Regions from separate parts of the Homo sapiens genome. Here all the other regions are linked to region 1. Evidence: fine-mapped expression QTL. A gene starts in region 1. Each other region holds a variant in brackets. All regions are shown on one strand. Distances are between the middles of the regions.

Region 1 (2,650 bases):
TATTTTAAATCAGTAAATTTGTGGTAATTTGTTACGGCAGCACACACACAAAAAAAACTAATGCAAGGGGTATTGGTTATGTTTTGTGCAGGTATATGATGGGCCTCCCCATGTGGATCCTTAGTGCTGTGGCAGAGCCCTTGTTATTGTGCTGGGATTTTCCCTCCAGCTCCCGGCCGGAAGCTGGGCTCACGTGGGAGCTCAGTGCCCTCCTGCTACAGATCTGTCTCTTCCTTACAATGGTATGATCCCGAGGGTCAGGGTGAGGGGTTTGGGAGGATAAGGCTTGTGCTGATAAAAGGAAAGGTGAGGTCCGTTGCAGTGGCTCAAGCCTGTAATTCCAGCGCTTTGGGAGGCCGAGGTGGGAAGACAGCTTGAGGCCAGGAGTTGGGGACCAGCCTGGGCAATATAGCGAGACCCTATCTCTACAAAAAATAAATAACAAAAAATACTAGCCAGGCGTGGTGGCACACACCTGTAGTCCTGGCTGCTTGGAAGGCTGAGGTGAGAGCATTGCTTGAATCCAGGTGTTGGAGGATGCGGAGCTATGATGGCGCCACTGTACTCCTGCCCGGGCAACAGAGTGAGACTCTGTTTAAAAAAAAAAAAGTAGGGATTTGTGGGGAGCTGTGCGTGAGGATAGAATGTATAGAATGTTTGCAGTCAGAAGGTGATGGTCGCAGGGGTTCCCAGACTTTAGTGTGTGGAGAAATCCTCTGCGATATGGTGGGAGGGAACCTGGTTGATAGAAGGACGGGCGGAAGGAATTCTATTCACAGCGTACTCTAATATTTCTTAAGTTTTACCTATTAATTTTTAACAAGAAATTTTAATTTTAATTTTAAACGAAAATACGCATCGTACTCAGAGGTAAAGATTTTTAATCCTCGCGGTTCGCTCGTATAAAGGCATATTTCCGGTCCCTTCCAAGGTCCAACAATCCGGACACGGCGGGTCTGGGGATGGGCCCAGGAATCCGCCTTTTTAGCAGCATTCCCCCAAACGACACGGCAGCTTCGCAAAGCGGCGGTGGCGTCTGCGGTTCCGGGCGCGGGCGGCCTCCGGCCGGGGAGGGCGCTGTGCGGGCGGCGCTGGGGGCGGGCCGGGGGCGGAGCGCGGGGCGCCGGCTGCTCTGGCGGCTCCCGCGGCTCCGGCTGGCGGCTTCGGGCCCTGCACCTGTGACTCTCGGCCGCGCTCGCCCTCGGCCCGCCCGGCGCCGCAGCCCCATGGCCCCGTCCAGGCTGCAGCTCGGCCTCCGCGCCGCCTACTCCGGCATCAGCTCCGTGGCCGGCTTCTCCATCTTCCTCGTCTGGACGGTGGTCTACCGACAGCCGGGGACCGCGGCCATGGGAGGGCTCGCAGGTACCCCGGGACGCTGGGCGGCGCGGGGCGGGTGCGCGGCTGCGGGGCGGGCGCCGTCAGCTGCTCCAGGACGCTCCCCGCGAGCGGCGCTTCCCCGCGGAGCGGGTGGAGTGTTTACTCGAAAACAGCGGTTGGCGGCGGCAGGCCCCACGCGGGCCCGGGCTCCTGGGCATTCCTGGGTGCCTCTGAGACCCGATGCCCGCCCGGGCGCCACCTGGGGGTGCCGACGGCCCGCCACTGCCGGCTGCACAGACCTGCCGCGCCGCCCGGGTTATCTGTCACGGCACACTGCCTGTCGCCCTCCGCCCAGTTGCCCCACGACAGTGTCCCCTCCGCGCGCCCGCGGCGCTGGTCGCCTCCTATCCCCAAACACACACACACACACACACGCACACACACACGGTTGTTCTGAGGGATCCCCTGCCCCCCAGGCGCCCCTTCCCTGGGTGCTGGGTGAGGGCAGAGAGGGAAGAAGTGGGAAAGGAAGAGGGCTAGGGGTGGCTGGGGAAGCCCATCTCCCTCCTTCCAGAGGGCTCCCCCGCAGAGCCCTCTGCTGAGACCCACAGGGAGGACGGCGTTAGGGATCTCATAGAAACTGGACATTCTCTTTCCACCCATGTTGGTGCCTTTTTGCTACCCGTCTGCTGTGGCTCCTCAGCCAAGCTCTGCCAAATCCTGCAGGCCAGCCGCCCTTTCTGTGCTTCTGGGAGGGAAGGGGAAGCATCGGTGCGCTGATGGGGGCTCTGGGCTGACCAGTGCTCCTTGTTGTGCACATTTGGGCTCGCAGTTTAACCTCTCTGCGCCATAGAATTGGTATGAAGATGAAAAATATTATCTCTACTTTCTAACATTTTAAAAAATGCTTTCTATGTGTCAGGCACTATGTTAAGCAACCTGCTTCCCTTATTTCATTTAATCCTTACATTAGTCTCATGAAGTAGGCCTTACGATTATGTCCATTTTACAGATAAGGAAACTGAGGCCTGAAGTTAAATAAATTGCTTACCCGGGATTACACAGCTACATGAAATAATATGTGTGGGAAAGGACTTTGGGAAGAAAATACGTATAATACTTTTACATATGATGATTATATTCCATTACTAAAATCCTCGGCCAAAAGAACCCTAAATGGAATAACTAAAAATAACTAATTTACTCACTGCCACAGGGAGTGCTGAGTGCCATCCCTGGGTAGAGTCGCAGCATGAGGTGGGGTTAATGCCTTAGAAGAGGGGCATACAGGGCCCCACCCTACACAATGCCAACAAAGCACTGGGTCACCAAG
Region 2 (2,686 bases), 160 kb before region 1:
TTTTTTTTTTTTTTTTTGAGACAGAGTTTCACTCTTGTCACCCAGGCTGAAGTGCAATGGTGCAATCTTGGCTCACTGCAACCTCGGCCTCCCAGGTTCAAGCGATTCTCCTGCCTTAGCCTCCAGAGTAGCTGGGATTACAGGTGCCCACCACCACGCCCAGCTAATTTTTTGTTTTTTTTAGTAGAGACGGGGTTTCTCCATGTTGGGCAGGCTGGTCTCGAACTCCTGACCTCAGGTGATCCACCCGCCTCGGCCTCCCAAAGTGATAGGATTACAGGCATGAGCCACAGTGCCTGGCCTCTCCTGTTACTTCTTATAAGGGCACTAACTCCATTTATGAAGGCTCCCTGACTCATGAGCTCATCTAATCCTAATTACCTCCCAAAGGCCCCACCTACTAATACCATCATAACTGAGTATAGGGTTTCAACATATAAATTTGGGGGGACACAAACATTCAGTCCATAACCTATATATTCAAATGAGTTTTTCTCCCAACTTGTCATGTTGGGCAGACATTCTTCATCCAATGATGCTGTTTGGTGGGTGCCCACCCCAACAGGCTCTATGGATGCCCCACTCACAGTGATGCTATTCATAAGAGGTGCTATCTGGAACAGCAAATGGAAACAAGCCAAATAACCAAAATGCATAAACCACATATTACATTAAAATAACATAATTTATTCCCACTGCTTTCTAGTAAGACAGAGTAAAATTTTAGTTTATTAGCCTTTTTGTGACATCTTGTAAACAATACTTATTTTAATGTAAAAGTGTACACAAATCAGAATGGCTGCACTGAACTCAAGGAAACACATGCTGCTTATTTTCTGCCTGAAACCTGGAAGGAGGAAGGAGGGGTCATCCTCAGAGCCTTCCCTTACCTTCATTCCTGTGATACAACTCCCTAGTCCTGCGCACAGCATCTCCTTTGTAACTCTCATTTCCACCCTCTCCTCACTAAGACCTCATCATTGCATATCTAAATTATTCCAATTGTCTAATAATTGGCCTCCCTGCAGCCACTCCACAAGTCTCTCTGCAGTCATAAGCCAGTGACCTTTCTGTAATGCAAATCTAGGTCCATATCCTCTTCCTGATGCCGCTTAATGCATGAAAGGCCTTCTCATGGCTGGCCTTTTCTACGTTCTCCAGTCTCATCATTTTTCACTTGTTCCACCCCCACCTCCAACATGCAACCTTTGCCCCAGCCCTACTTAAAGACATGCAGTTCCCCAACACATAATATGCAATTTGATTTTTTAAGTTGTGTATTTATTTGCTGATTCCTTATGGTCTGTCTCCCATTGTTAGAATATTGGGTAATGAGAGTGGGAGACTTGTCTGGTTTATGTATAGTGGTATTGCCAACATCTGGAATGACTCCTGATACCTGAAAGGCACATCTGTAACGATTTTTTAAATGGATGAATGAATTAATGAATACCTCAGTGCCTATGCACACACTGTTCCTTCCATTTAAAATGTCCTTTCCCACTGCCTTTTATGATTTAAACCCCATTTTTCTTCCAAAACTCAGTTTCAGTATCAATTCTTCTGGAAAGCTTTTGCTATACTTTCCCTTCCCTACCCA[C/CCACACACA]CACACACACACACACACACACACACACACACATGCCAATGGGTTTACCTCTCTTCTGAGCTCCCATTACACCCCTACCCCATGCATAAGTCTCAGAAACAGTTGGCTCTTGATCAAAGACTGATGCTCCCCTTCCACAGTGCAAAGCTGTTGCCAGAAAGTGGCTACCTAGCCATGGCATTACATGAGGCCAAGAGGACTAAGCTCTAATGAATGGCTTATGGCCACCTCTTCCAAACCTATCCCCCAAAATCTTCCTGTGCCACACTCCAGTTTCCTCTTTCTTTCATTTGCTGACTGGTTGCAGAGGATCCAGAAGAGAACTCTGAGACTATGGAGATTGTTGGAGCTATGTGAGGACTGTCTGCCAAGCACCTGCTCTACTCTGTAATAGAGGACGGAAACAAACATCTACTATGCTAAATCATGGGGCTTTAGGAGCTGTTTGTTACAGAAGTTAGCCTACCCTACATTATACAGCATATCATTACCACAGTGCAAAGTACTGTCATAGTCCATGTGTCAGTCTCCTTTTCTGTACTCAGTGCTCTTGAGGCAGGGACTGTGAGTCACTTCTCTATATTACCAGGGCCTAATGCAGGGTCTGGCACATAACTATGTGCACTTAGTATGTCTGGCAATTGGCATGACTCCAGGAATAAAAAAAGAAAAAAACAGACAAAGCCAAACCTTGGTTTTCTCCCTAACAAGCTTTCTCCCACAAAATCCCTTTGCCATTTTCACAATAGGGAATTTCTGAGATGATGTTTTACCACGAGCAGCATTTGGACCCCTTCTTCTCTACTAAAACACTTTGGGTGAAGAGGTCCTCCTGAGAACCTCTGCCCTGTACATCTTATTACCAGACTGTTCAGCTGTCAACCACTACACAAAGAGCTCACTGATGAGAATTACTTTTGAAGGAGCAATCTATGCCTGTGATTAATTCCATCCTTCCCTGGAATGTTTGTTTCGTTTTTGTTTTAATAGCACCTTTTCCTGTTAAGAATGAAATAAATGATGCCTAATTTTCCCTCTCCTTGCCAACCTAAACTAATCATGACTAATTCTGACTTAGGTGAATTT
Region 3 (2,686 bases), 28 kb after region 1:
GGGAGACGGAGCTGTTGCAGCGGGCTTATCCTGGAGAAGGGGAAGTGGGTGGGGTAGGAGCAGGCCGGCCCCATGGGAGGGCACACAAGTGGAGAAGCCTTCCTGGAGAGGCCTCCTTCAGCAATTCCAACGCTGGGCATCTCCCAGTGGGGCAGCCACAGACTGTCCTCAGGGATTGGGGCTGAGGAGGGCTGGAAAGGCCTGTGGCAAAGTACCAGTCCAGGAGTCAGAAATCATAGCCTCCAGGCCCAAGCTGGCCACTCCTAACCACAATCTTTACATCTACAGCACTTGTGCATGAGCAGCTACATCAAGCCACTGGCCCCGGGGGGTAGTCATTACTATCTTGTTATCCTAAATAAGGAAACCGAGGCTCGGAGGTGAAGGGCCCTGTCCAAAGTCACCCTGCTAGGGGCAGAGCTAGCATGGGTTCTGGTCCTACCAAGGCAGGTACTCCAGTTTCCCACCAACTTTCAGGAATTCACCTCCCCTCAAGGGGCTTTCTCACTAAGCAAAGAGGGGTTTGCAGTAGGCTGTCATTAAAGGGCATTCACTCTAACATTCCCTGACTGTGACATGGACACAAGACAGGAGCCCAGCAAGGAGGTGCCCGCCATGTCCCCCGAATATCAAGAGGCCTGGAGGGACAGTGATGGCTGTGCACCCAGATGCCGCCCGCAGTAGAAAATGTATGGCTTTGATGCCCCACCCCTTGTTCACATTGCCTCCCAAGAAATCCGGATTCTCATTCGGGTTGAGTCTGGGTTTCGAATACCAAAACACTCCTGCCCCAGGAAAGGTTTCAGTCCTTCCATGTTCTGTGTCCTGGCTTCCCGGGGTGACTCCCCTGATTATGCAAGAGGGGCTTGGGGGAACCAAGGCCAGCGACCTGGACCCAAGACCAGTGGCTTCAGCCACATACGGACTGTGAGCAGACCCCCAGCAGGGGCCCTTCCCCTCACACTCTGCATGGCCACTGCCTCCACAGCAGAAGGGAATACAGGATGGGCTCTGCCTGGAGCCCTGGAAATACTTTTCGAGGTGCTTTAGCATTTGTGAGGCTCCACAATCTGGTCCTAACTTGGCTTCTCTCAACTTGGTCTGCATTTGAACATGAACCCTCCACCTTGGCCATCAGCTTCCACCTGTCACAAATCCACATCTCTTCTGTTCTCTGACCTTTTGCTCACAATGTCCCCCTGCCTGTGCTGTCCTCATCCCTACATTCTACTTTTCCAAATCCTACTCTTTGCTCAAAGCTCAGCTGGAGTCCTCCCTCATCCCTGGACCCAGCCAGCGCCTAGCATCCCTCCCTCTTTTGGACTCCAATCACATGGCTGTTCCACACCAGGATTAGTGCTCTGTGGGCAGGTACCATGTCTGAGTTAAGCTCCATAGGGCAGGGAGTTGGTTTCATGCTTTGTT[T/C]ATTATTCCTAGCACCTGGAATAGTACCTAGCACATGACAGGCACTCCACAAACATAGAATCAATGAATAAATCAGTGTCTCTCCTAAAATGTCCAGGAAAGTACCCTGGCACAGAGACAGAACTCATTAATGATTCTTGAACAAATGGATAAACTCATGAATCAGTGTCCTCTCATTGGGCACTGGTCACATTATTGCATTCTATTTTTTTTCGCTTTGTATTTGTGTGTGCTTCCTCCCTAACCTGCCTGTTAGCTTTTCAACAGCCAGGACTGAAGCAAGGAGGATACCTGGGTTCCATTTCTCCCTGCTATATGGAATTATTAGGCATCAGGCTGTATATCTTGCACTCAGTAGGCCCTTGGTTGATACTGGCTACACTAAAGGAAGGGCAGACCGCGTCTAGTCCAGACCTGGCCCCATGGGCATGTCCTAAACCAAAGCAGCAGCAGGAAGTCCAGTCCTTCCCCAGGGCAGCCTAGCAGCAGAGGAGGCTCGGGCCAGCAGAGGGAGGAGGCGCAGACAGTGAGAGAACACTTCCCCTCCAGCAGAGCAGTCCTGCAAGGGCTGCCATGCCCACCTTGCAGAGCCGGTGTGAGGACCGAGTCCACACACAAGAACACACCTTGCCTGGTGCCTGACATGGGGTAGGGGTCTCAGTATAAATATTAGCTTCTTACTTTCCTTCCTGTTTCACTGCTCCCAGCAAGGACAAGACGGGCATCCTGTGTTTCCTTTTCCTGTTGTGTTTCCTAGCACTGTGCCCAGCCAGCATCCAGAGCTGCCTCTCTTACCCCGGCTCCTCGCCCCTCCCTGGAGCCGCCACCTCCTGGCTCTCTGGCAGATCAGCCAGCGACCCTGCTTCTCTAACCCCTCAGCTTCTCGCGTTCTTACAGCCTTTCCACCCCTCATCTTCCACTCCCTACCATGGACTCCCCCGGGTTTGACTCTTACCTGCGCCAGTGGGGCTGCAGTAGTGGGCACCCGGGCTCACCTGGGTCCCATCTGTAGAGAGAGAGACGGAGTGAAAGAGCTGCAGGGAGGGGTGAGGAGAGGGAGCAGGAAGGAAAGAAGGTCAAGCCAGGCCTGCTCCCTGCCACTCCAAGCTTGAGCACGCCAAAGCCTGGGACCTCCACCAGAAGCTAATCAAAACGAGAAGACCCCACCCCATTCGACTCCTCCAGTCCCCCTGCTGGTGAAAAGGGCTCCCAGCTCCCTCTTCCTCAAGTCACTCATTCTAAATGACTTGAACTCAGACTA
Region 4 (2,686 bases), 820 kb before region 1:
CTAAGTTCTCTAAAGTTCTCTTCAAAATAGATGTTTTCATAGATTAACTTGTTTTAAAATAAATACAAAGGAGCAGGCATAAGATGATGTTGCATTTTCCTTAGTAGCTGATCTCTGAAAGACATTGCTTAGATTTCTATTTTGAAATTAAAACAAACAAACAAATAGCATACATTGCAATATGAAAATACTCAATGATGCTATATATATACTTTAAGTTCTGTGATACATGTGCAGAATGTGCAGGTTTGTTACACAGGTATTCATATGCCATGGTGGTTTGCTGCGCCCATCAACCCGTCATCTATATTAGGCATTTCTCCTAATGCTATCCCTTCCCTAGCCCCCCACCCCCTGACAGGTCCCGGTGTGTGATGTTGCCCTCCCTGTGTCCATGTGTTCTCATTGTCCAACTCCTACTTATGAGTGAGAACATGTGGTGTCTGGTTTTCTGTTCCTGTATTAGTTTGCTGAGAGTGATGGTTTCCAGCTGCATCCAAGTCCCTGCAAAGGATATGAACTTATCCTTTGTTATGGCTGCATAGTATTCCATGGTGTATATGTGCCACATTTGCTTTATTCTTATGAGACAGAACTTCCTAGGGTATGACTATTTAGTTTGATTGATCTGAAATTATGGATTTCAATAATTTGGAGATGAGACCTTAGTATTTCCAAATGTATGCAAATATTGCTTTCATAATGCACTTGATGGGTCTGAAATAGGAATAGCACTGGGCAGGCACAGGAGGATAGAAAACCCCCAACCACAGCTAAAACAATAACTAGGCAAATAAACCATGGGCTGATGGAAAACCCAAAAGAAGGGACAACAAATGGCCAAAATCCTGGTCAGGTTGACATATCTATGACTCTTTCTGGCAAACCCGAAAAAGAGAAAAAGGGGATGGTAACAAGGGTCCCCGAAATCCTCTCCTTTTCCAGAATGATTATTCCACCCCCTAATTAAAGAAACACCCATAAAATTAAAAACCTAAACTTAATTGTGTGTGATTTGTTCTCGTCAGCAC[G/A]CCTGCACTTCTCTCTCAACTGTGTACTTTCATTTTTGGAATCAAAGCTTCTTGCCTTTCGCATCATTCGGACTCATCCCCGAATTCTTTTGAACCAGGACACCAGCTGAGGCTGGGGTCTCACTGGCATCTGAAGGCCCTCCGAGCCCTCTAGCAACAGGCAGCAGGCCTTCTTAGTTACGTTTGCTGGCTTGATTAGAATCATATTGCCTTGCACAGTGATAAGCACCTAAACTGATATTAGCTTCAAGAAAACATGAAAGTGTTGATTAACAAAAAAAAAAAAATTAGGTGTTAAGGGTCCCCAAAATACTCTGCTTTGGTTTAATGTATATCGACTACAAAACATCTTTTGAGGCAAGTTTTACCTGTGTAATCAACAGTATTACTGTTTGGTGTGATGTGAAAAGACAAGGATTTTAGAAGATTTTGTGTATGTGTCTTCATGAAACTGCATTGGAAACAGCACATGGGAAGTGAAAAAGAGAAATTTCATAGATACCGTTTGCAATTCTTAGTTAAGCTAGAAACAAAGAGGATCCTGATAATTTAAACATTTGTTTAAATTGTTTCTAATTCCTGTGGTCTGGGAACAAATCCCCAACCTAGCTTCAGTTACCCTCCTCCACACCACTCCATTGACGAAAAGGGGGAAGAAGGAAACTGGGTGGGGGGAAGAATGCGGAAGGAGAAGGAGGTGCAGAAAATTTTGTTTAATTGGGGTTGTAAAAAACAGCAGATGATTCAATATCTCCCTGAGGTTTTTACTGTAGATCACAGAAAGGAATGTGGAAAAACTCTTTTCATGACTTCCACCTCCTAGTAGGATTTGCCTCAGTGGTAGGCCTGCCAACAGTGGCCATGGGTCCTGGACAGAGGATACATGTGCTGTCTGGCCCACTGGTCTGTGGTCATTTCCTATCTTTTTTTAGGGTCTGATGCTATTTTAAGTGTGCCTCTTGACTGTGTGGGTATCACAGACACATTTCTCTGCTGTCCGGTTGCAGAACGGGTCTACTTTTTGACCATGCATATTGTAGACAGTCCATGGAGGTGAGACAGGGATGGTCCTTAAAACCTAGAAATAAGGAAAGTGAGAATGCTCTTTGAGAGTTAAGCTATGACGTAAGTCCAGCATAATTTGGAGTAAAGAGAGATATTTAAAGTCACATTAAGATTGCAAGCAAACTTGAATTGTGTGTGTCCAAGTCATGCAACAAGAAGTGGATTTACCCAGGCTCCCTGGCCAGCATATTCTTATTATAGTGATGGATACATCACACTGCCAGAGTTGATGTTTGTTGCACATTCTTTTCACATAACCAACTCTCCTGATTCCCCAAAGTAAATGTCTCAGGTACTTTGCACTGATCAGACTGACCTAAATGTGAGATCTCCTTGACAGTCACATTTCCCTTTAAAATCTAATACACTGGAATTCTGTGTTTCTACCTCATGGTAAGTTTTGTTAGCTAAAGGTCTCATCTTTAAGTCCAAAGAATGTTGGGTTACGATGAGTTTCAGAGCTGCTATCATCCACATCATGCTGGTGTCTCCCAAAATTTATATGTTGGAACCAAACCTCCAATGGGATAGTATTGAGAGATGGGGCTTTGGGGAGGTGATTAGATTATGAGGACAGATCCCTCATGCAT

What was found. PIP is the estimated chance that this variant, and not a neighbour inherited with it, causes the effect.
Region 2: its variant is the best candidate, but not a certain one, in a credible set for the expression of SLC48A1 in whole blood (INTERVAL, PIP 0.64).
Region 3: its variant is the best candidate, but not a certain one, in a credible set for the expression of SLC48A1 in whole blood (INTERVAL, PIP 0.77).
Region 4: its variant is the best candidate, but not a certain one, in a credible set for the expression of SLC48A1 in visceral fat (GTEx, PIP 0.59).

Annotation. Positions count from the first base shown.
Region 1 is chr12:47,772,079-47,774,728 of GRCh38, forward strand. It overlaps SLC48A1 (solute carrier family 48 member 1), which reads left to right and starts at 1,160. Exons shown (of 3, transcript NM_017842.3): 1 at 1,160-1,362. The coding sequence starts at 1,227. RefSeq lists a silencer at 1,026-1,635 and enhancers at 1,381-1,887, 1,888-2,392.
Region 2 is chr12:47,608,907-47,611,592 of GRCh38, forward strand. No RefSeq gene overlaps it. Among named protein-coding and RNA genes, the nearest start is that of RPAP3, 96 kb to the right of the region's middle. The variant C/CCACACACA (reference allele first, on the strand shown) is at 1,601.
Region 3 is chr12:47,799,844-47,802,529 of GRCh38, forward strand. HDAC7 (histone deacetylase 7) reads right to left here. Exons shown (of 26, transcript NM_015401.5): 2 at 2,381-2,431. It overlaps LOC124902926 (a long non-coding RNA gene), which reads left to right and starts at 1,237. Exons shown (of 2, transcript XR_007063290.1): 1 at 1,237-2,686. The variant T/C (reference allele first, on the strand shown) is at 1,426.
Region 4 is chr12:46,954,934-46,957,619 of GRCh38, forward strand. It overlaps LOC124902925 (a long non-coding RNA gene), which reads right to left. Exons shown (of 2, transcript XR_007063287.1): 2 at 1,730-2,109. Among named protein-coding and RNA genes, the nearest start is that of PCED1B, 120 kb to the right of the region's middle. The variant G/A (reference allele first, on the strand shown) is at 1,032.